Linked DNA regions of Homo sapiens. The protein of the gene in region 1 interacts with the protein of each later gene in a biochemical or structural test. Each region holds a gene or a part of one and is shown in the gene's direction. Other genes may lie near its edges.

Region 1 (3,500 bases):
ATTATCTAGTTCAAGGGTCTGTGAGAAGCTCTCTTTGAGCCTTAAGTACTACAGGATGTTGGGAAAAGATGTTGTGTTCTTTCTTTCCTTTTTTTTTTGAGACAGAGTCTCGCTCTGTCGTCCAGGTTGGAGTGCAGTGGTGCGATCTCGGCTCATTGCAAGCTCCACCTCCCGGCTTTAAGTGATTCTTCTGCCTCAGCCTCCTGAGTAGCTGGGAATACAAGTGTGTGCCACCACACCTGGCTAATTTTTTGTATCTTTAGTAAAGACGGGGTTTCACCGTGTTAGCCAGGATGGTCTCGATCTCCTGACCTCGTGACCTGCCCGCCTCGGCCTCCCAAAGTGCTGGGATTACAGGCATGAGCCACTGCACCCAGCCCGTCGTGTTCTTTCTTGTCGTCATTCTGTTCTGAAGTTGTTTCATTTTATAAGCCTTAAGTTTTGAACAGGGCAGTACTCACTGACACCCTCTTAACAGACTCAGAAAGATGTGTTAATTCATTTTTTAGGGGGAGAGGGGAGATATTTGTGTTCCAGCAGCTTATTTAGGTCACATACCTCCTGATAGGTCTTCCCATTCTTTGAAATCATGACATTGAAACCTCCAAAAGAACTAGATACCACTTTGCTAATGAGTTGAAAGGAGGCTTTGGTCCATCTGGTGCTCAGCACTGTACTTCTCAGCATTTAAACGTGCCTTACAGCCCATTGCCAAACAGTGATGTCATATAATGAGGCTCCCCTTGCTGGGCAGATGGAGCACAGTGTTACTATCACAAGCTCGTGCCCAGCATATTAACTGAGCAGGAACATGCCAGAAATATAAATATTAACAGCTCTGTTTTGTCAGCCACTGACTTTGTTTCACTGCTATTCCCAAAACATGAATTAAAACTTAAATTACCCCTTGATGTTAGTGTATGTATTTATCTGTCAAGATTTTTTTTTTTTAAGAGATGGCATCTCACTCTGTCACCCAGGTTAGAGTACAGTGGCACAGTCACGGTTCATGATAACCTCGAACTCTTGTGTTTAAGTGATCCTTCCTCTTCCCTATCCCAAGTAGCTGAGACAACAGGCACATAATGCCATGCCCAGCTAATAAGATCTTTGAGGAATTTGTTCTTGCCCCTGACCTTATTGGTTATAAGAACATGGTCCTTTTTACCCTAAGGGTAACAGAGACTTGTCGTATAATCTGTGTTCAATTATAAAATCAACAGCTGATAAGGTTTCTTTTTCTAAGAAGAGAAGACCATCAGAAGAATATATATATATATAATCCAGGCATTCACCTAGTACTGTAAAGTGTAAACTTATGAACTTGAATTGACACATGAATATTTACTTTGTTTCTGTATCCCCTTGAAGCCCATATTTCTCCAGTGGATTACTCTGGAATTCAAGCTGTAGGACGGGTGTTTTACAGCCTCCAATATACACAGCAGTAGATCTCTATAGGAAGCTGTCCTCTTCACTACTCACCCCCACACCCTCCACATTTAAGGAGTAATTTGCAAAGTCTCAAAAGCCTTTTTCACCACAGTGATAACTGGTTATATGGCAGTATTTATTCTCCCAAGTGCCACCATGCTGAAACACAAAAATACTCATTTGAAATATAGAGTTAGACAAATTACCATTTTGTAACCCCTTATGAAATAATTGCTTTTGGGAAGGAAACCCAGTGAATGCAGAAAGCCATAAGTGAAAAGAATGGATATTTACTTGGTACCAAAATATCCCGCAGATTACTTGCTTTGGTCAAAGGGGAAACATCTTAACCCAGTGATCAATTTTAGCTCATTAGTAGTGGGACAGATGGCCTTAATGCACTGTCACGTGCACAGCATCACCTGTATTTTTGCTGAAAATGTTTAACCTGATTCTTACCAAAATTTTTGACCTAACTTCCGGTTTTTGGGAAGTACAGGGGATAGTGGAAAGCAGGGTATAGACACATGACAGCAAAAGAAGCAAAATCAGACACATCCCGAGAAACGGTCATTCTCAGGACAATCAGAGGGTCTCTTTAGATCAAAATCAGGAAAGAACAGGGCTTAGAAGTAAGAAGATTATTCTAGACTAAGAGAGACTAAAGAAAACCAGTCAGTTGCAGTGCATGGCCCCTAATTGAATCCTGGTTTCAACAAACTAGTTCTAAAAGACAACGTTGGAATAATTGGAGAAATCTTAACATGAACTGGATTTTAGATGATATTTAGAAATTATTTGTCAGAGATAATAACAGTATTATGATTATATAGGAAGATGTCTTCGTGTTGAAATATTTGGGGAGGGTAAAGTGTCATGTCTATAATTTTATTTTAAAACAGTTCAGAAAAAAATACATATAAATACAGAAATATAAAAATGTTAATTGTTGAATATGCTAGGCATATGAGTGTTCACTTTATCATAGTTTTTACTTTTCTGTTTCTGTATATTTGAAATTTTTCATAGTGAAATTTTTAAAAATAAAATTCCCTTTGATTTTAATACCATGTCTCACCCTCATCACCATGTAAAACCCCCAGTTTATTCACTGTTTGAAGATCTGTTGATGAATATTTGATGTTAGTAAATAAACAGCTTAGGGGGACAAAAAAAAAACAGCCCTGCCTACCTATTGTAGGTTACTTCAGCTGTAGGCTTTGTTTTATACAGTTTGACTACACTGGTAGCAGTTTGACATTGACGGTCCACAAAAGCCTGTTCAAACAGAATCCCAGTCATTTAAAAAAATTCTTCTTTAGTAACATATTCTTTAAAAATACAAAATACAGGAGGAGGGTGAGGGTTGAGAGATAACCTATCGGGTACAATGTTCACTATTTGGTTAATGGGCACGCTAGAAGCCCAGTCCCCATCAGTCCGTGGTGAGACCCATGTAACAAATGTGCACATGTACCCCCAAATCAAAAATAAAATAAAAAAATTTTAAAACATAGAAAATACAGATACACACACACACACACACACACATACACACATAAAGGAGAAGAGGGCTAATATATCCTAGAGTAGGTATTTTGGAGGAGAGTTCTTTGTTTGGATATGAAGGGTCAAAACTATGTTTGCTCAATAAGGCATACTTTTTTGTAACATGTTAAAAACTCTTTTCCTTCCTGTCTATGGTACTGATAGCTGTCGACTTGCTGGAGAAGATGCTTGTATTGGACTCAGATAAGAGAATTACAGCGGCCCAAGCCCTTGCACATGCCTACTTTGCTCAGTACCACGATCCTGATGATGAACCAGTGGCCGATCCTTATGATCAGTCCTTTGAAAGCAGGGACCTCCTTATAGATGAGTGGAAAAGTAAGTCCTAAGGGTAGGATTAACATCTTGAACCACTAACCAAAAGCGGTGGGAAAAATAAAAACTGAATGGTCATAACCAACTTGCTAAAGCTTGTAGATGAGGTCTCTAATGCAGAATGAATATGTTCTCTGGTGGAAACTGTTGTAGACAGTGATACTCTCTGGACCTTTGAGATA
Region 2 (3,500 bases), on another chromosome or scaffold:
CAGTTAAGTGCTTCTTTACTTCCCATCCAGTGCCTTGCACAGGGCTTGGTACATGGTTTGGTCCAAAATATTTGTTGAATAAATTTGCAGATAGCCCACGTGTGTAGGAGAGGGAGAGAAGGTTCTTGAAAAATGGAGATTGGAGGAATCTAGGATGGGGAGGGAGATATGGGAAGGGCCCAGACAGAGGCAGGAGGGTTCCAACTTGTTCCTCTTCCCTGCAGCCCAGTGTTTCCCGGGCTCTTTGAGTTCTGCTCGCGTTACACAGGCGCATCTCTGCAAGGAGCAACCCAGCTGAACAACAAGGTGACATAGTCCCGAGTCCTGTTCTTCCTTTCCTCTGGATCCCTGGACTCGGGATTTAACCCTGATCCTGGGCTCCCAGCTTGAGGGGTGGGCAGGAAGGACTGTGACTTAGGTGTTTGTCTTTCAGATCTGTGATATTGCCATTAACTGGGCTGGTGGTCTGCACCATGCCAAGAAGTTTGAGGTGAGTGAGGAGGTGATGGGAAAGACAGTGGCCATCCTAGGGTAGGTGTTTAGGATGATGGTGGGGGGCAGCTGGGAGGGGAATTGCTCTTCTCTTTATGAGACCACTGTCTTGCCATAGGCCTCTGGCTTCTGCTATGTCAACGACATTGTGATTGGCATCCTGGAGCTGCTCAAGTAAGTAGCCCAGGAGGAGATGGGGGCAGTTACGGGATTCTTGGCTGAGGAGGTCTCTCAGTCTCAACCCTGACCTTGACCTCCCTCCTCCCTGATTAGCTTCTCCCAAGTTCTTGATGCTTTATTCAGGCTGCCTCTTCCACTGCTGCAGATTCCCTACTGCCTGCTCACATTTCAGCCTTCTCTGCATATCCCTCTCCTGTCCCTGCCTCTAGCCTCTAGGCTGGAGCCCCCAGTTGCCTTTAGGGAACTGGTGACATTAAGTTTCAGGTGACCAGGGCAGAAGCAGACTCTTCACAATTCGAGACCCGGTGTTTGAGAGGAGTGGGTTGGGGGGTTCACTTCTAGCTCAGACCCTGGCTTTGGCTTCCCTCTAGGTACCACCCTCGGGTGCTCTACATTGACATTGACATCCACCATGGTGACGGGGTTCAAGAAGCTTTCTACCTCACTGACCGGGTCATGACGGTGTCCTTCCACAAATACGGAAATTACTTCTTCCCTGGCACAGGTATGGGAATAGGGATTACTTTCCCCTTTGCACCCTTCAGCTCTTTACTATGAGTGCCTCCTTCTCAGCCTTCTAGTCTCATCTCAGGTGTCCCCTCCTCAGAGAAGCCTTTCCTTACCACTCCAGTTATCATAATCACCTCCTTCCCCATTCCTCTGTTACATCAGCCTCATTGTTTCCCTCAGAACACTCACTGCTATTTGTGTTTATTGTGGTTTTTTGTTTTGTTTTGTTTACTGCCTCCCTCCTCCTCATGGCTATTCCCTAAGAATATAAGCGTGGTGGGATATCGTAAATTTCATTAGTTCCATTCGTTGCTGCATCCCTACTGCCTAGTACACAGTTGGCTCAGAGTGGATCCCCCAAAACTATTTGCCCAATGAATGCAAGCTGCAAGAGATTTAGTGGCTCTAGGGAGTTTATGGTGAAGCTACATAGATGGAATGAGAGGCTCCCAGAGTGCAGATTGGGGCTGAAACAGCTGGGTTGTGGGTGCTTCCCATGTGTGGCTACCACCACCCACTTCCCTACAGGTGACATGTATGAAGTCGGGGCAGAGAGTGGCCGCTACTACTGTCTGAACGTGCCCCTGCGGGATGGCATTGATGACCAGAGTAAGTACCGAAGTCTTCCCTCTGTTCCCTAGGCCCCTTCTTTTTCTCCTTGAAATAACCTCTTCTGCCTGGTATTGTCTGCTGTTGGGCCAGTTGTCCTTAAGGATGAATGGCCTTCAGAGGGACCATGAATCTCTGGAAATTGTATGCAACATATCATGTGTATGTGCATTTTTCTGGGAAAAGTCATTGGCTTTCATCAGTCACTCATAGCAGTCTGGGATCCCTTCCAGAAGTTTCAGACCAGTGATTTGATTCTTTTGGGTGGCCCCTTTCCTGGGCTACATGCTCGCTCAACCCCCTTTTTCCTTTTGTTCCCTGTCTCCCCATCCCCTTGGGGTGCCAGGTGCCCATCTTTGGCCCTCTCCCAGGTTACAAGCACCTTTTCCAGCCGGTTATCAACCAGGTAGTGGACTTCTACCAACCCACGTGCATTGTGCTCCAGGTAATACTGTCAGTTCCTCCTCAGGAGTGTTCTGCCTGGGCTTGGGGAAAGAGAGCAAGGGAAGAGGAGGTTCTTTAGGTTGGTGGTGGAAGGGGTATCTGTGATGTTCTGATCAGTTCTGATCACTGCACTTTCCTGGGGTTTTGCTTTTTGCAGTGTGGAGCTGACTCTCTGGGCTGTGATCGATTGGGCTGCTTTAACCTCAGCATCCGAGGGCATGGGTGAGACTTGCTCTCCTTCTTCTCCCCAAGGTTTTTAAGTGGCCTTGGACTTCAGTACGTGGGTGGGGGTAGTTGGGGAATGGGCCTCACCTCTTCTTGGAAATCAAAAATAGCTACAAATTGTACTTGAACTAGAAATGTCATCTTGAACAGGGTTCCCTAGATGGTCATTCATTCACGATATATTTTTATTAAGCACCTGTTATGTTCCAGGCATCATACCACATCATGGGGATGGAATAAGGAGTCTCCCATGGAGTTTACAGTTTAGGAAACAGACAAAAAATAAATAATCAAATGAAATAAATAGATTCTTATAAATTCTGTGAAAGAAAAAAAGAAAGCTGAGACACAGGATACAATGGGGGACCTACTTGAGATAGCATGGTTTCGGAAAGTTTTTCTGAGGAAGTAAAATTTGAGTTGAGACCTGGAGACTAAGAAGGAGTGAGTCATAAGAGGAGCAGAGAGAAGCCTGACCCAAGCATGGACAAAGGCCCACAAAAGGCTCTGAGGGCTGGGCCCAGTGGCACACACCTATAATCCCAACACTTCCAGAGGCCAAGGTGGGAGAATCGCCTGAGGCTAGGAGTTTGAGGCCAGCCTGGGCAACATAGTGAGAGCCATCTCTACAGAAAATAAAAAACAAAATCAGCTGGGCATGATGGTGCATGCCTATAGTCCTAGCTACTCAGGAAGCTGAGGCAGGAGGATCACTTGAGCCTAGGAGTTTGAGGTTACAGTGAACTATGATTGTGCCACTGGACTTCAGTCTGTTGAGGTGAGGTCCGAGAAGCTGGCCATGGTGAGATTGTGCAGAGCCTTTAAACCCTGGTAAGGAGTTTGAATTATATTCCAAAGATGATGGGAAACCATTGAAGGATTTTAAGCAGGAAAGTGACATGATCCAATTTGTGTTTGAAAGTGACAATTCTGACTGCTGAATAGAGAAAGGTTTGGGTAGGGGGGATGGAGATGGAAGTAGAAAGACCAGTTAGGAAGCCATGGTGTTGGTTAGGTGCCCAGACTAAGGTGGAGGGGGT
Region 3 (3,500 bases), on another chromosome or scaffold:
CTTCATAGGCCATGTGCAGAAAATGGCAGTGTTAACATGATCTAAGTGTGGAGTTTTTGTCCCTCTGACATGAAAAGGTCACTTTTTGGGCACTCATGCAGGTCCAGTTGAGGGATTGGTGGTCTCAACTGGGTAAGAGCTGTCCCCTAATTCCTGAAAAACAACTTTAAGCATCTGTTAATATAGTGACCCACAGTCAGAGATGTCATCTTTTTTTTCTTTCCTTTTTTTTTCTTTTGAGGCAGGGTCATGCTATGTTGCCCAGGCTGTTCACAGATGTTAACTTTTATTTATTTATTATTTATTATTATTATTATTTTTTGAGATGGAGTTTTCGATCTTGTTGCCCAGGCTGGAGTGCAATGGCATGGTCTCAGCTCACTGCAACTGCCTCCCAGCTTCAAGCGATTCTCCTGCCTCAGCCTCCCAAGTAGCTGGGATTACAGGCACATACCACCACACCCAGCTAATTTTTGTATTTTTAGTAGAGACGGGGTTTCACCATGTTAGCCAGGCTGGTCTCAAACTCCTGACCTCAGGTGATCCACCTGCCTTGGCCTCCCAAAGTGCTGGGATTACAGATGTGAGCCACCATGCCTGGCCAACTTCTTTGTTTGTTTGTTTGAGATGGGGTCTCACTCTGTTGCCCAGGCTGGAGTGCAGTGGCATGTTCATGGCTCACTGCAGCTTCGAACTCCCGGGGATCAAGCAGTCCTGCCTCAGCCTCCTGAGTAGCTGGGACTACAGGCATGTGCCACCATGCCCTACTCAGAGTTTTTCATAAATGCCGTTTTAGTGTTAAATAAGTTTCCTTCTATTCCTAGTTTGCTGAATATGTGTGTATGTGTGTGTTTATTGTGGTAAAATACACATAACATAAAATTCTATCATTTTAACCCTTTAAAAATGTCCAGATCAGTGTAATTAAGTACATTTACGTTGTTGTACAACTGTCACCATGATCTGTCTTCAGAACTTTTTCATCCCAAAGTGAAATGCTGTACCTATTAAACACTAACTTCCCATCTCCCCCCACTCCAGCCTCTGGCAACCACCATTCTACTTTCTGTGTCTATGAATTTGACTACTCTAAAAACCTCATATACGTGGGATCATATATTTGTCCTTTTGTGACTGACTTATTCACTTAGCATAATGTCTTTGAACTTTTGCTGAGTGTTTTTTTTTTTAATCTTAAAAGGGTATTGAATTTTTTCAAATATCTTTTCTGTGTCTGTTGAGATGATAATGTGGTGTATCACATTGATTGATTTCCTTATGTTGAACCACTCTTGCATTCCTGGGATAAATGTTGGTCATGGTATATAATCTTTTTAATGTACTGTTGGATCCAGTTTGCAGTTTGCTGTTATTTTCTTGAGGATTTTTATTTCTATATTCATATGGGATATTGGTTTATAGTTTTCTTATCATGTCTTTTTTTTAAGAGACCAAGTCTCCCTATGTTGCCCAGGCTGGTCTTGAACTCCTGGACTCAAGGGATCTTCCTGCCTCAGCCTCCCAAAGTGCTAGGATTACAGGTGTGAGCCACCATGCCCAGCCTGAATTTTATCGTATCTTTTTCTGGCTTTGGTGTCAGGGTGATGTTGGCCTCATAGAACGTTAGGAAGTGTTCCATTCTTTTCTGTTTTTTGAAGGAGTTCGAGTAGGATTGGTGTTAATTCTTTGAATATTTGGTAGAATTTGCCAATGCAGCCATGTGATACTGGACTTTTCTTTGTTGGGAGGTTTTTGTTTATCAATTCAATCTCTTATTATAGGTTTGTTGAGACTTTTAATTTTTTCTGAGTCAGTTTTGGTACTTTAATGTTTCTAAAAATTTGTCTCTTTTATCTAAATTATCTAATATGCTGGTTTAGTCATTCACAGTATTCTCTTATAATCCTTTCATTTATATAAAATTAGTAGTAATATCCCCAGCTTCATTTCTGATTTTATTTATTTTCATTTCATCTTCTTTCTTTTTCTCCCAGTCAGTCTGACAAGAGTTTGTTAATTACTTTTTTTTTTTTTTTTTCGAGATGGAGTCTTGCTGTGTCACCCAGGCTGGAGTGCAGTGGCATGATCTCAGCTCACTGCAACCTCCACCTCCCAGGTTCAAGCAATTCTCCTGCCTCAGCCTCTCCAGTAGCTGGGATTACAGGTGCCTGCCACCGTGCCCAGCTAATTTTTGTATTTTTAGTAGAGACAGGGTTTTACCATGTTGACCAGGCTGGTCTTGAACTCCTGACCTTGTGATCTGCCCGCCTCGGCCTCCCAAAGTGCTGGGATTACAGGCGTGAGCCACCATACCCGGCCAAGAGTTTGTAAATTCTGTTGATCTTTTTAAATAACAAATTTTTGGTTTCGTTGATTCTACTATTTTTATTCTTCTTGGTTTTTGTGGTTGTTGTTGTTTGTTTGTTTTTGAGAAATGGGGCCGTGCTCTGTTACCCAGGCTGGAATGATGCAGTGGTGTGATCATATGCACTGCAACCTCAAACTGCTGGGCTCAAGTGATCCTCCTACCTCAGCCTCCTGAGTAACTGAGACTACAGGCATGCATCACCAAACCCAGCTAATTTTTTTTTTAATTTCATAGAGATGGGGTCTCACTGTCTTGCCCAGGCCTTGAACTCCTGGCCTCAAGCGATCCTCCTGCCTCAGCCTCCCAAAGCGCTGGGATTACAGGTGTGAGGTACTGCACCTGCCTTATTTTTATTCTTTATTTCACTTATCTCTGCTCTAAACATTGTTATTCCCTCCCTTTGGTTGGGTCCAGTTTGTGCTTCTTTTTCTAGTTCCTTAAGGTCTGAAGTTAGAGTATTGACTTAAGGTCTTTCTTTTTTTTATCTCTGTTTTTATTTTTATTTTTTGTAGAGATGGGGGTTTCACTATGGTGCCCAGGCTTGTCTTGAGCTCATGGGCTCAAGCGATTCTCCCACCTCAGCTTCCCAAAGTGTTGGGATTAAAGGCATGAGCCACCATACCCTGCCTTCTTTCTAATATTTTATTATTGTTATTATTATTTATTTATTTATTTTTTGAGACAGAGTCTCGCTCTGTTGCCTGGGCTGGAGTACAGTGGCGTGATCTTGGCTCACTGCAACCTCTGCCTCCCAAGTTCAAGCGATTCTCCTGCCTCAGCCTCCCAAGTAGCTGGGATTACAGACATACACCACCACACCCAGCTAATTTTTGTATTTTTAGTAGAGACAGGGTTTTGCCACATTGGTCAGGCTGGTCTTGAACTCCCAACTTCAGGTGATCTGTCCGCCTTGGCCTCCCAAAGTGCTGGGATTATAGGCGTGAGCCACCGCGCCCGGCCTTATTACTATTATTTTTTAAGACAGGGTCTTGCTCTGTTGCCCAGGCTGGGGTGCAGTGGCACCATCACAGCTTTCACTTTCCAGATTCAGGCAATCCTCCCACCTCAGTCTCCCAAGTAGCTGGGACCATAGGCTCGTGCCACCATGCCTAGCTAATTTTTGTATTTTTTG
Region 4 (3,500 bases), on another chromosome or scaffold:
ATGGGCAAAAACTGGAAGCATTCCCTTTGAAAACTGGCACAAGACAGGGATGCCCTCTCTCACCGCTCCTATTCAACATAGTGTTGGAAGTTCTGGCCAGGGCAATCAGGCAGGAGAAGGAAATAAAGGGTATTCAATTAGGAAAAGAGGAAGTCAAATTGTCCCTGTTTGCAGACGACATGATTGTTTATCTAGAAAACCCCATCGTCTCAGCCCAAAATCTCCTTAAGCTGATAAGCAACTTCAGCAAAGTCTCAGGACGGAATCATTTTTTAAAAAAATTGGCCGGGCGCGGTGGCTCACGCCTGTAATCCCAGCACTTTGGGAGGCCAAGGCGGGTGGATCACCTGAGGTCAGGAGTTCGAGACCAGCCTGGCCAACATGGTGAAACCCCGTCACTAAAAAAAAAAAAGCCGAGTGTGGTGGCATGCGCTTGTAATCCCAGCCACTCGAGAGGCTGAGGCAAGAGAATCGCTTGAACCCGGGAGGTGGAGGTTGCATTGAGCCGAGATCACGCCACTGCACTCCAGCCTGGGCTACAAAAGCGAAACTCCGTCACACACACACAAAAAACAATCAACCAACCAAACAAAAAACACCTATGCCTCTTCCGGTAGTTGATCTGCTGAAGAATCCTCCTCTAACAGCATTTAGTGCTTAACGCACAAGTGAGCTGGGCACGGTGGCTTACGACTGTAATTCCAGCACTGTGGGAGGCCGAGGAGGAGGATCATTTGTGGCCAGGAGTTCAAGGCCAGCCTGGGCAACATAGTGAGACCCAGTCTACAAAAAGAAAAAAAAAATAGCCGGCCATCGTGGCGCGTGCCTATGGTCCCAACTTACTTGGGAAGGATGAAGGAGGGAATCTTGAGCCTATGAGGTGGAGGCTGCAGTGAGCCATGATTGCTCCACTGTACTCCAGCCTGGGGATAGAGCTAAAGACTGTCTCTAAAAGAAAATCAACAAATGGCTCACTATTGTTCATTGTTTCAAATACAAACTTCCAAACCTGGATGTCTATTTTTAGTAACCTCATTTTTTGATATTTCTGCTAAGCAAATATGCCAATAAATAGCTTGTTTATTTTTACCTCTGCACCTTCCCAGGAGAATTTCTTATTAGAGGGAAGCTGTCTACAAAACTCCCTTCCTCACAGCCTTGCACTTTGACCCAGTAATACTGCTTCCAGAAATCTAGGCCGGACATGCATAAAAATTTATGTTCTACATAGCAATTATTGATAAAAGTGGAACACTGGAAACAAAGATCTAAATATCTTGCAATATGGGATTGTTAAATAAATTATGGTCCATGTAGTATAGACACAGAAATACCAGGTAGCTATTAAAATGGTGTTGTAGTCTTCAATTTTTTTTTAAGGTACCTATTCCTGGTATAGGTTTGTTGTAGCCTTCTATTTTTATACCATAGGAAATTGTGCAAACTACATTGTCAAGTTAAAAAAATAAAGATAATCATTTCTTCTGGTGACATGTAATAGATGCAAAAACGATGTGGTTTCATTTTTTCATTAGAAAGTATAATAGGCGTGGTAGCTCACACCTGTAATCCCAGTACTTTGAGAGGCTGAGGCGGGCAGCTCGCTTGACCACAGGAATTTGAGATCAGCCTGGGCAATGTGACGAAACCCCATCTCTACGAAAAATACAAAAACAAAATTGAGCTGGGCCTGTAGTCTTGGCTACCCAGGATGCTGAGGTGGAAGGATCACCTGAGTCTGGTCAAGGCTGCAGTGAGCCATGATTGCGCCACTGCACTTCATCCAGCCTGGGCGAGAATGAGACCCCGTCTCAAAGAAAAAAAAAAAAAGTATAATAATACCCAGCTCATTACATCATTAAACAAAGTGGGGAGGGCTTGCATGAACTGGTGACAAAGGTGTAGCTTCTACAAAGGATTATGATGAATACAGCTATAGCACCTGAGGTCCAGAAAAACGAACAAAAAACTTCTGTTAAACTTATCTCCTTAACAATTCATTTTTTGATTCTCTTTTCTCTTCTTCTTACAAATTAGTTTAAACCTGAATAAAATCTTTTAATTCAAGCTTTTGTAATATGGAACTTGTACATTATTGAGTAAAACATTTAAAAGTCATGGTAAATGTTAAAATAACTGAGGTTTTATGACAAAATTGAGTCCTTCACATCACATGGGAAAGAATATAAGATTAATCACTGGATTCATTGATTAATTTTTTTGCGTATAAAAGATTTTTTTTTTTTTTTTTTGAGATGGAGTCTTGCTCTGTCACCCAGGCTGGAGTGCAGTGGACCGATCTCGGCTCACTGCAAGCTCCGCCTCCCGGGTTCATGCTATTCTCCTGCCTCAGCCTCCCGAGTACCTGGGACTACAGGCGCCCGCCACCATGCCCGGCTAATTTTTTGTATTTTTCTTAGTAGAGACGGGGTTTCACCATGTTAGCCAGGATGGTCTCGATCTCCTGACCTCATGATCTGACCACCTAGGCCTCCCAAAGTGCTGGGATTACAGGTGTGAGCCACCACGCCTGGCAGCATATAAAAGATTTTTAAGCCTATGAACTTGATTATCTCACTATGACCTGTAATGTTTTTCAAAATGTGTAAGAGCATTTATATCTTAGGGTATACAGTGTGTCTATTGAAATAAATAAAATGGCATATCTTTAAAAATAATTATGGTGAAGTCATTTTGATAGACTAAATTTTGCCTATGCTGTCTTGATTTTGAAATTTGGTACGTTGCGTGGTTACAGTTTGTGAAGCACTTTTCATTTGGGTAACCTCTACTCTCTCCAGTTGCACTTAAAGTCACTTAAAGCCACAGAGAGGTTTTTCTACCTTCAGCACCCATTTTAGGACAATTTCTGGTAATTGCTAAGTAAATGTCAGCTAGTTGACTTCCTGCCTGACCTGTCTTGGCCTGTTTCCTGCTCATTAGCATCTCCACTAGAGGGCAGGCTGGGCTGCTGAGGAGAGAAGGAAAGGAGTGTTTTCATTCTCTAGCTAACCCTGTCCTCCTCTCCTCTACTGCAGCTCCCAGCTTGGTGACCACACAGAGCTCCTGGGACAGTTCCGTGTTTGGAGTGACTGATGCTCATACATGTGTTTGAACATTGCCTTATAGTATTCTCTGTGTCGATGGAAATGGAGAGTGTGCTAATAATTTACCTAGGGACTTAAAATGTGTTGACTAGAAAGCCACTAAGTAACTATGGGATGTTCTAATACTCTCATGTCTTGTGTCTGTAAGAATCAGATTTTTCTGTGTGTAGGGTAGGAGCTATAGATGTAATATAAGTAAATACCCTTTAGTGGCCCGGGGTAGTGGCTCACACCTGTAATCCCAGCACTTTGAGAGGCTGAGGCAGGTGGATTGCTTGAAACCAGGAGTTCAAGACCAGCCTGGGCAACATAGTGAGACCCCATCTCTAAAAAAAAAAAAAAAATTAGCCAGGTGTGGTGGCTTACACCTGTAGCTACTCGGGAGGCTGAGGC
Region 5 (3,500 bases), on another chromosome or scaffold:
AACAAAAGATAACGTAGATAAGCAAAAAGATGAAAAATAGTATCAATAAGAATTCCATCATTCTGTAATAACCATCATTAAAAATTGGCTGGGTGTGGTGGCTCACACCTGTAATCCCAGCACTTTGGGAGGCCGAGGCAGGTGGATCACCTGAGGTCAGGAGTTCGAGACCAGCCTGGTCAACATGGTGAAACCCCATCTCTACTAAAAATACATAAATTAGCCGAAAATGGTGTCAGGCGCCTGTAATCCCAGCTACTCAGGAGGCTGAGGCAGGAGAATCACTTGACAGGTCAGGGGCAGAGGTTGCAGTGAGCTGAGATTGTGCCACTTCACTCCAGCCTGGGAAAAAGAGCAAAACTCAGTCTCAAAAAAAAAAAAAATTAGTGGTCAATTGTAAGAACCCCAGTCTTTTTTCTGTGCACATGTCTATGGCGAAATCGAACCATATTGTACATTTTATTTTATAGTCAGTTTTATTTTCTTTATATATCAAGGCTATCTTCTTGTGAGTGGGTGTGGGGTATTTTTTTTTTTTTTTGGTTTGTTGTTGTCTGAGACGGAGTCTCGCTCTGTCCCCTAGGCTGGAGTGCAGTGGTGCAATCACAGCTCACTGCAGCCTGGACCACCCGAGTTTAAGGGATCCTCTTACCTCAGCCCCGCTAGGAGCTGAGACTACAGGAGCATGCCAACATGCAGCGATAATTTTTGTATATTTTTTGTATAGAGATGAGATTTCACTGTGTTGACCAAGCTGGTCTCAAACTCCTGGGCTCAAGCAAGCTGCTCACCTTGACCTCCCAAAGTGCTGGGATCACAGATGTGAGCCACCATGCCCAGCCCTTCATGTGTGTGTGTGTGTGTGTGTGTGTGTGTGTGTGTGTGTGTGTGTGTAGAGAGAGAGACAGAGACAGAGACAGACAGAGTCTTGCTCTGTCACCAGGCTGGCATGCGGTGGCACGATCTCTGCTCACTGCAACCTCTGCCTCCCAGGTTCAAGCAATTCTCATGCCTCAGCCTCCAGAGTAGCTGGGATTACAGGCACGCACCACCACACCCAGCTAATTTTTTGTCGTCTTAGTAGAAACGGGGTTTCACCATGTTGGCCAGGTTGGTCTTGAACTCCTGACCTCAAATGATCCTTCTGCCTCAGCCTCCCAAAGTGCTGGGATCACAGGCATGAGCCACCATGCCAGCCCTTTATATATTTTTAAGTAGTCTGATACAACACCATTTTGAATGACCACATGCTATTCCATAGGGAAAGTGCCATGGCTGATTTGACCATTCTCCTGTTCTTGGCCATTTTAAGCTGCTTCTAGTTGTTCATAGTTATAAATGTGAGGTAGGCTTTAAAGGACCTGGATACAGGTACTGCAAGTAGCAGTGGACAGGTGGGAAATCTTCAAAGAGTTCCAAGCAGCTAGAGGCAGAGACCAGATGGTGGCTGGCCGGGGGATGGGGGCTGGGATAGGCAAAGGGAACCAAGAACACCAGGCCAGAGAGGAGAGTTTGGGATGGGCGGGAGCAAGTGGAGCCTTAAGAGAATGCCGTGGGAAAGTCAGAGGCTTCAGCCACAAGTGGGAGGAGAAATTTTCAAGGAACTGAATCAGCTAGACAAGGCAGAGAGAAGAATAAGGAAGCTACTATAAAAAAAACAAGAAAGTTCAGGAAGAAAGGGTGGAGGTTGGCCAAGGGCTGTGTGAAGGAAGAGGAGAACCAACCAGAGATATTAAAGAAATGAAGATGACAGGATGGGAGCTTCCAGGTGTTTGGCATGTGATTAAGCATTGTGCATTTTCAAGTATAAATTTTTAATTTTTTTTCAGTCACCTTGATTAAGGATGGCAAATGCCAACGGAAATAAAAAATTTAAAATGTATTTTTCAAGTTTCACAAAACTAAGTAAGTGTAAAAGAAATTCAAGTAAGCTTTCATTTATGGCTTTTTTTCGTGTGTGTGTGTGTGTGTGTGTGTGTGTGTGTGTGTGTGATGGGATCTCACTGTGTCTCCCAGGAATAGTGCAGTGGCATGACCATACCTCACTGCAACCTTGGCCTCCCAGGTTCAAGCCATTCTCCTGCCTCAGCCTCCTGAGTAGCTGGGACTACAGGTGCACACCACCACATTGCCTAATTTTTTTTATTTTTTGTAGAAACAGGATCTTACTATGTTGCCCAGGCTGGTCTTAAACTCCTGGGCTCAATCGATCCTCCTGCCTCTACCTCCTCAAGTACTGGGATTACAGGCTAGAGCCACTGCACTCAGCTGGCTTTTTTTATATGTTTGTAGTACTTGTACTTTCACAGTTATTAAAACTTAAAACTGCTCTAGGACTTTTGGGATACTCTTTAGTAGCTTTTAATTCTCACATACCCCTCTGCAGCAGGTGCTATTGCTGTCCTCTTTTTGCAGCGGAGGAGACGGAGTGAGGGATAGAGAAGCAGAGCCCACATGCAGGCAGCTCCTTGCCTCTGCTTCTTGCCCCCACATGGCTCTGCAGACTTAGGGGAAAAGATGAATTCAGGTTGGGGACTTGTTGGGACAAATTAGATCAAAGAATTACTGGGATGTCAAGGTGGGGATATCCAACCAGAAAATAGAAAACTCAGTCTGAAACTTGGAATAGAGATTTGAGTAGTTGAAGCCTTGGAGGTAGATGAGGTCACTAAAGTAGTGTGTGAAAACAGATTAAATGGGTGGAAATTCCATGAGTCGGAGTCTACTCTAACACCCTCAGACAAAGCCCGTCATCTCTTCCCCTCAGGCTGCAAATATTCTCTCCTAGGGCACTCCCCACAGCCATCCCTCTCCTGCAGACCCTCTTGTTATCCTGGGAAGGGGATAGGGTCCCATGTGAGCCAACCTGGACAGCAGTGCATATGATCATATACAGTCTTCCATCACAACATCCTCAGGCCATCTCTCCCAGGCTCTGCTACTGCCTCCCGTCTTCTTTCCTGGGCACTGGGACTCCAGAATGTCTGTGCCAAAGGAACACAGGTGTGTCTGCATCAAAGGGAGGAAGGCTGTCAAATTTTTTTTAAATTAAAATTGTCAAATTTTTTTAAAAAATTTTTTTCTTATCTGCAGTGCTCAGCACCGAGGCCAGGCCCTATGCTGAGCAGTGCAGATTTAAAAAAAAAAAAAAAAAGACAAATGTCTGTCCCTGCCCTCAAGGAACTCCCAGACTGAGGCAGAAACAGACACACAAGGTGAACACTTCAGTGTGCTATGGTAAGGGCTGTAGAATGAGGAGCCACATGGAGGAGAGGGACCTAGCCCTGGGTGACGGGCAGACAGGCAGGGAGGGCTGGTCAGTACTGGAGATGGCACTACCCGCTGTGGCCTGGTGCTCAGGGGGACAAAGCCCAACTGTGTTGTGCAGGGCTGGGCACCTCAAACCCCTGCCAGACACATCACATCTCTCCTGTCCTTCTCTCTCCCCCTCAGGTTCAGGTGGGTCCCAGTCACAGATGCCTATTGGCAGATTCTCTTCT
Region 6 (2,576 bases), on another chromosome or scaffold:
ACACGTGTCTCTCCAGGATGGGGTTGTCATAGTGCCTCTTTGGGCTTTAATGTGGACCTAAGAGGGCTGAAAGGTAGCCCTGGAGCCAGAGGCACACCCCAAACAGGCAGCTATTGAAATGTGGTGACTGCTAGCTCAGTCAGCCTCCAGATGCTCTCTGCAGCCTGTAGGGCTTGCTTGGAGTGTAGGGAGGAGTGCAAGAGAAGGTGGGGGAGTGGAGAAAGGCCTTCCCCAGAGCAGTGTGTCCTGCTGTCTGGCTTAGTGCCCTTCGAGTCCCTGTATCCCCAGCCTCAGCAGACTCGGGTCCCCACTGCTTTCTCCTTGGCCAGCTGGAGGCTGAGACCACAGGTCATCTCCCCTGGCCCAGGGTGCAAGGAAGGGGCACGAGGGCTCAGGATGAATGTAAACGCTCTATCTCTGAGCCTGGTGACCCAATGTTTCTGCCCAGCCTCCAGTGGCAAGGTGTGGGGGTGGCCCGGGCTGTCTTTTCCCGATGGTGGCTGTGTCCAGTGGAGGGCGTTTTGGTGTCGGCTGGGCTGGGCTAGCTTTAACAACAGGAAGTGGGAGGCTTCCCCGCCTCATCCGCTTACTGGGAACCAAAAGTAGGTGCCTGGCTGGGAGGAAGGAAGGAAGCTGAGGCCTGGGGGAGGGGCTGCAACTGGGGCTGCCTGGAGCTTCTCAGCCCTGCCCACCACCCCCTGGGTCAAGAGGGCTAGGGGTGCTGCCTCAGCATTTGAACTCCCCCAACGAGGGAGGGGAATAGAGAGAGGGAAGCAGGCTTCGCCAGGCTGGGCCTGGCTAGTGGGTACCTTTATCCTTCCTGAAAGCTCCTCCCCGTCTGGGTAGGGGGACCTTTTTCCTCATTTGACAAGTGAAGGAATTGAGGCCCAGGCATCCCTTAGGAGTCAGTGGGACAGGATCAGTCACCAGCTACACCCTGAAAAGGCCAAAAATAAAGCCAGCAGAAACAGACTGTCTTTGGATCACCTGGAGGTGGGTTTGGAGGCCAGGCGTTCCTCACATCCTGGTGTCACCACTGGAGGCTGGTCCCAGCACCCCCTTTTCCCACCCCCAATCTCGAGGTCTGACCACACAGCTCCTCATGAAGCTGCAATGTCTGTCTCCTTGCCAGATGATCCTGCCCCAGTGCCTTAGCCATGGGGCCCCCTGTCAGTCCCTGAGTCTGGAGGAAGCACCTACTGTATGCTTTACTCCTTGGTTGGGAGGGGATGGGAGAGGAAGCTCTGTCAGGACAAAGGCAACGAAGAACAGTGGGTGAACCCGTATGTCATCTTGTAGGAAGGCATTGATTGCGTGCTAGCTGTGTGCCTGGCTCCTGGAGGGTTCAGAGTCAGGGTGGTGGGGACATCAAGGACCCCATGGCTGCCTCTTGTGAATCTATGTCCCTGGCACAGCTGTGGCACACAGAGAGGCAGCTGCCCCGGGGTCCAGGAGAGATTACAGGACTGAGTTGTTCAGTAGCTCGGCCAGTATTTATTGAGCTTCTATGTGTCAGACAGAGGAGTCTGAGGGTGGCACTGGGGGAAGCTGGGAGGGTTGGAGGGGAAAGGGGACAGGAAGGTTGGCCCCATCCAGTCAGCTGTGGTAGGAGATATCACTGACACATGGGCCTCCTGAGGAAGGTCTAGCAAGTGGCAGGGGTGGGGCCCATTTAAGCACACCTCACTTATGAAGCCCCATCACAAGTGATAGTGTGGCCATCATCCCAGTCCATGTGTCTTAGGAGCTGGAGTTAAGGCCTTGGGGACTAGCTGGGCAGATGGCAGAGCGAAATGCAGGGCCAGGCCACCTACTTCCTTCCAGAGGAGCCTCCCTCAGGCCACTTTCCTAGAAGACTCTCAGGGACAACCCATGGGAGCGGCTCCAAGAGAACCAGCCCAGCCCCCAGTCCCAGGTCATGGCCTGGCAGCAGCGGGCGCTGAGCTAGGAGGAGCTTCTGTGTGGCCTTGGGCTTGCCACTTTGTCTCTGTGTCTGTTTCCTCGTTGATAAAATGGGCTTACTGGCCATGGTGCAGATGACCCAAGAGGATGCAGGTGACACCCGTGACAGCAGTCGTTAACGCACATGGCAGTGGTAGGACTAGCCATGATCACAGGCATTACAGTAGTTCATGTTTGTTGACCCCTCACTTGGCTCAGGTCCTTATGAGACCACTGTGCATAAATAGGCCCATTTTATAGATGAGGAAACAGACACGGGTGTCCAGTGCCTTGGGGCTAAAGTGTGCAGAGCCCTCTCCACAGCAGTGCTGTTGACCTCTATTCCAAGTTGCTGCCCTACCCACACTGGGCTTGGCCAGGTCCCTCAGGGGTCGGGCAAGACCAGCCAGCCACCATGCTGCCCTCTGTGCCCCAGCCCCACCTGCCCACCCATGTGGGAAGGCTCCTTGAAGGAGGCACCTCCCTGACCCATGCCAATGTGTTTCAGACGAAGCCCGCTCCAAGAAGTGTGGTGTCCTGGTGCACTGCCTGGCAGGCATCAGCCGCTCAGTGACGGTCACTGTGGCCTATCTGATGCAGAAGATGAACCTGTCACTCAACGACGCCTACGACTT
Region 7 (3,500 bases), on another chromosome or scaffold:
GCTGCTAGCCCCTCGGGACCCCTGCGGGAGCGGGGCAAGACCCCCGCCACCCCCACCTCGCAGTTCGTCTTCAGCTTTCCGGTCTCCGTGGGCGTGCACTCGGCCCCCAGCAGCCTGCCCTACCTGCACAGCCCCATCACCACCTCTCCCAGCTGTTAGAGCCGCCCTGGGGGCCCCAGAACCAGAGCTGGCTCCCAGCAAGGGTAGGACGGGCCGCATGCGGGCAGAAAGTTGGGACTGAGCAGCTGGGAGCAGGCGACCGAGCTCCTTCCCCATCATTTCTCCTTGGCCAACGACGAGGCCAGCCAGAATGGCAATAAGGACTCCGAATACATAATAAAAGCAAACAGAACACTCCAACTTAGAGCAATAACGGCTGCCGCAGCAGCCAGGGAAGACCTTGGTTTGGTTTATGTGTCAGTTTCACTTTTCCGATAGAAATTTCTTACCTCATTTTTTTAAGCAGTAAGGCTTGAAGTGATGAAACCCACAGATCCTAGCAAATGTGCCCAACCAGCTTTACTAAAGGGGGAGGAAGGGAGGGCAAAGGGATGAGAAGACAAGTTTCCCAGAAGTGCCTGGTTCTGTGTACTTGTCCCTTTGTTGTCGTTGTTGTAGTTAAAGGAATTTCATTTTTTAAAAGAAATCTTCGAAGGTGTGGTTTTCATTTCTCAGTCACCAACAGATGAATAATTATGCTTAATAATAAAGTATTTATTAAGACTTTCTTCAGAGTATGAAAGTACAAAAAGTCTAGTTACAGTGGATTTAGAATATATTTATGTTGATGTCAAACAGCTGAGCACCGTAGCATGCAGATGTCAAGGCAGTTAGGAAGTAAATGGTGTCTTGTAGATATGTGCAAGGTAGCATGATGAGCAACTTGAGTTTGTTGCCACTGAGAAGCAGGCGGGTTGGGTGGGAGGAGGAAGAAAGGGAAGAATTAGGTTTGAATTGCTTTTTAAAAAAAAAAGAAAAGAAAAAGACAGCATCTCACTATGTTGCCAAGGCTCATCTTGAGAAGCAGGCGGGTTGGGTGGGAGGAGGAAGAAAGGGAAGAATTAGGTTTGAATTGCTTTTTTAAAAAAAAAGAAAAGAAAAAAAAAGACAGCATCTCACTATGTTGCCAAGGCTCATCTCAAGCTCTTGGGCTCAAGAGATCCTCCCACCTCGGCCTCCTGAGTAGCTGGGACTGCAGGTGTGTGTCATCATGACCAATGTGAATTGCTTTTGAAGCTGGTTCATGGGCATGTAGGCCACCGAAGCAATTTTAGACCACAGTAAGTCAAGCTTTTTTCCCTCCGATGATCACTGGGTGGTTGCAGCATTTTTTGCATAAACCTGCCTAAGACTTGTCTATCGTCTGTGATCAATATGCCATATTACACTAAGGTGCTCCTGGAAAATTGGGTGCAGTTCAAATTTTCCTACAGCAAATCATTTGGCAAGGCCAGCCATTGGGGAAACCAGACAACTAGAGATAACCCTGAAATGAATCCTTTTGTAAATTGAAGCACCATCTTTTCTTTTTTTGCATAAATTGGAGGTTTTAATTTTAGGGCAGTTACCTGAAGTGAAATATACCAACAATTTCTTGTGTTCTTTAAATTCCTAGTTAGGTGAATATTTTTGAAGGTCCTCTTTTGAATAAAGAGGGGAATGGACACCACATTTCAGGTCTTCTCGAAGTGTGGAAGGGCAAGAGAGCATCAGTGAGCTGATGGTGGATTGCTTACATCGGATTCCATTGGTATGAATTTCCCAAACTGGAAATCAAAGCGCCAGGGTGGGGTTGGGGCTGACTGCTGGTGAGGGGGCTGGCCGCTGGCTCCCGTGACGTGCGTCATGGGCACGCAGGCGCCATTTTGAATCTATCGTCGGCACGTGGGTGCCATTTTGAATCCTTAGTTGGGCCTTTCTAAATGGAGAATGGCTTTGGAGGGAGACACGTTTTCTGTGGGGAGGGTTTGGGGGGGAGGGAGGAGGGAACAAGCTACATGCTATTTTGTTTGTAGTATTGTGGAACAGTCTTGTTATGGAGTGCCAGCTTAGAGGTTGTTGCAAACTTGTCTAGAAGTGAGAGCATGGTTTTTTTTAGCCCTTTGAGAGTCTACATCTAATGAACATTCTTGCTCACCCATAAATAACGTCAAGCCTCAATGTCACCGTCACGTTGGGATACTCTTTCTCATCTGGCATCCTAGACAGGACAAGGTTGGTTACCTTTCCTTCCATGAACCATGAACCTGTGACGGCATCATTCATCCTGACTTCACCAAGCTCCGCCTGTGGGTGAGGCCAGAGCTCCCACTGGCAATTTTTAGAAGAGCCAGAGGCTCCCTGCTTCCTCTAGAAATAACAGTTCAGGGTGAAGCATGGAGGGTTTCAGTTCCCAGACAATGGAACCATTTAGAGACAACACAGTTGGACATTTCCACTTTTTCCTTGATTCCTGGAAGTCCAGTGGGTTCTGCAGCTGAAAAAGCCCTGGGTCCCAGCAGCAGAGAGACAGGACAGAGGGGATGCTTGGGCGGGGAGGGACGGTAACCTGCAGAACAGATTCCATTTTTATAGAACGAGTACACGTTTGCTAAAACAGTCCTGCTTTCCCAGACTGGATTCCCACCACAGGGACAGTCGGAACTCAGGACTAGCTCCAGCGACATCTTTCCTCCGAATTCAAGCCTTCTATCACAATGTCAAAACAGCTATTTATAAAGCCATTTTCATTGTACTTGATAACAGCACGAGTCCCAAAACTTTTAGAAATAAAATAGGACATTGGCTTGATTGAAAAGAGGGACTTTTTAAAAATTGTTCTTTCGTCAGAAGCCTTTTGGATGACTTACAATAGCTCTGATGAAGATACCACCCCAGCGTCAGTCCAATAGGTCAGTGAGTTTCAACAGGCATCCATCCCTCCCATGAAGGGATTCTGGTGATGGGAAGTTTCTGTAATGACAGGAAAGCATTGACCCTCATTGATTGTCAACTTTGGTATTAGCCATGAAAGACAGGATGCTCATTGGGTGTTCTGTAGAGTGAGGAATGCTGCCTATTCCCTCCCAGAACGTCTGACCCAGGGGTGTGTGTTGAGGAGCCCTGGGGGAAATGGACCAAGTTTTCCCACAGAGCAGTATTAGGCTGAAGAGCAGGTGACTGGTAGGCCCCAGCTCCCATCATTCCCTCCCAAAGCCATTTTGTTCAGTTGCTCATCCACGCTGGATTCCAGAGAGTTTTCCAATTTGGGAAGCCATGAGAAAGGTTTTTAAATCTTGGGAAGATGGAGAGAGGGACATAGGATAGTTGACTCCAACATGACAGGAAGAGGCTGGAGATTGGGAATTGGCCATCAACCAAGCCTGTAGTAGTAAAGCCATGGTCCCGCATTGGAATTACTTGGGGAACTTATACAGTTCTGATACCCAGGCTCTCCTAGACCAGTTCAACCAATTCTAGGTGGGGGACTCAGGCATCAGTGTGTTTCGTAGCTCCCCGGG

Evidence for each region.
Region 2: of the proteins of MAPK14 (region 1) and HDAC3, one has a biochemical effect on the other in vitro, tested with the Homo sapiens proteins (one study listed by BioGRID).
Region 3: of the proteins of MAPK14 (region 1) and TFCP2, one has a biochemical effect on the other in vitro, tested with the Homo sapiens proteins (one study listed by BioGRID).
Region 4: of the proteins of MAPK14 (region 1) and NRL, one has a biochemical effect on the other in vitro, tested with the Homo sapiens proteins (one study listed by BioGRID).
Region 5: of the proteins of MAPK14 (region 1) and NLRP1, one has a biochemical effect on the other in vitro, tested with the Homo sapiens proteins (one study listed by BioGRID).
Region 6: of the proteins of MAPK14 (region 1) and DUSP7, one has a biochemical effect on the other in vitro, tested with the Homo sapiens proteins (one study listed by IntAct).
Region 7: the proteins of MAPK14 (region 1) and DUSP4 form a complex in vitro, tested with the Homo sapiens proteins (one study listed by BioGRID).

Annotation. Positions count from the first base shown.
Region 1 is NC_000006.12:36,104,308-36,107,807, forward strand, and holds part of MAPK14 (mitogen-activated protein kinase 14), read left to right. Parts: intron 1-3,147; coding exon 3,148-3,321; intron 3,322-3,500. UniProt on the Homo sapiens protein: Serine/threonine kinase which acts as an essential component of the MAP kinase signal transduction pathway.
Region 2 is NC_000005.10:141,626,850-141,630,349, reverse strand, and holds part of HDAC3 (histone deacetylase 3), read left to right. Parts: intron 1-224; coding exon 225-306; intron 307-433; coding exon 434-490; intron 491-610; coding exon 611-666; intron 667-1,043; coding exon 1,044-1,177; intron 1,178-1,710; coding exon 1,711-1,791; intron 1,792-2,137; exon of another isoform or gene 2,138-2,162; coding exon 2,163-2,236; intron 2,237-2,392; coding exon 2,393-2,457; intron 2,458-3,500. UniProt on the Homo sapiens protein: Histone deacetylase that catalyzes the deacetylation of lysine residues on the N-terminal part of the core histones (H2A, H2B, H3 and H4), and some other non-histone substrates.
Region 3 is NC_000012.12:51,163,136-51,166,635, reverse strand, and holds part of TFCP2 (alpha-globin transcription factor CP2), read left to right. Parts: intron 1-3,500.
Region 4 is NC_000014.9:24,108,450-24,111,949, reverse strand, and holds part of NRL (neural retina-specific leucine zipper protein), read left to right. Parts: intron 1-3,500. UniProt on the Homo sapiens protein: Acts as a transcriptional activator which regulates the expression of several rod-specific genes, including RHO and PDE6B. Also functions as a transcriptional coactivator, stimulating transcription mediated by the transcription factor CRX and NR2E3.
Region 5 is NC_000017.11:5,553,510-5,557,009, reverse strand, and holds part of NLRP1 (NACHT, LRR and PYD domains-containing protein 1), read left to right. Parts: intron 1-2,411; exon of another isoform or gene 2,412-2,504; intron 2,505-2,866; exon of another isoform or gene 2,867-3,009; intron 3,010-3,453; coding exon 3,454-3,500.
Region 6 is NC_000003.12:52,050,996-52,053,571, reverse strand, and holds part of DUSP7 (dual specificity protein phosphatase 7), read left to right. Parts: intron 1-2,449; coding exon 2,450-2,576. UniProt on the Homo sapiens protein: Dual specificity protein phosphatase. Shows high activity towards MAPK1/ERK2. Also has lower activity towards MAPK14 and MAPK8. In arrested oocytes, plays a role in meiotic resumption.
Region 7 is NC_000008.11:29,333,685-29,337,184, reverse strand, and holds part of DUSP4 (dual specificity protein phosphatase 4), read left to right. Parts: coding exon 1-159; 3' UTR 160-3,500. UniProt on the Homo sapiens protein: Regulates mitogenic signal transduction by dephosphorylating both Thr and Tyr residues on MAP kinases ERK1 and ERK2.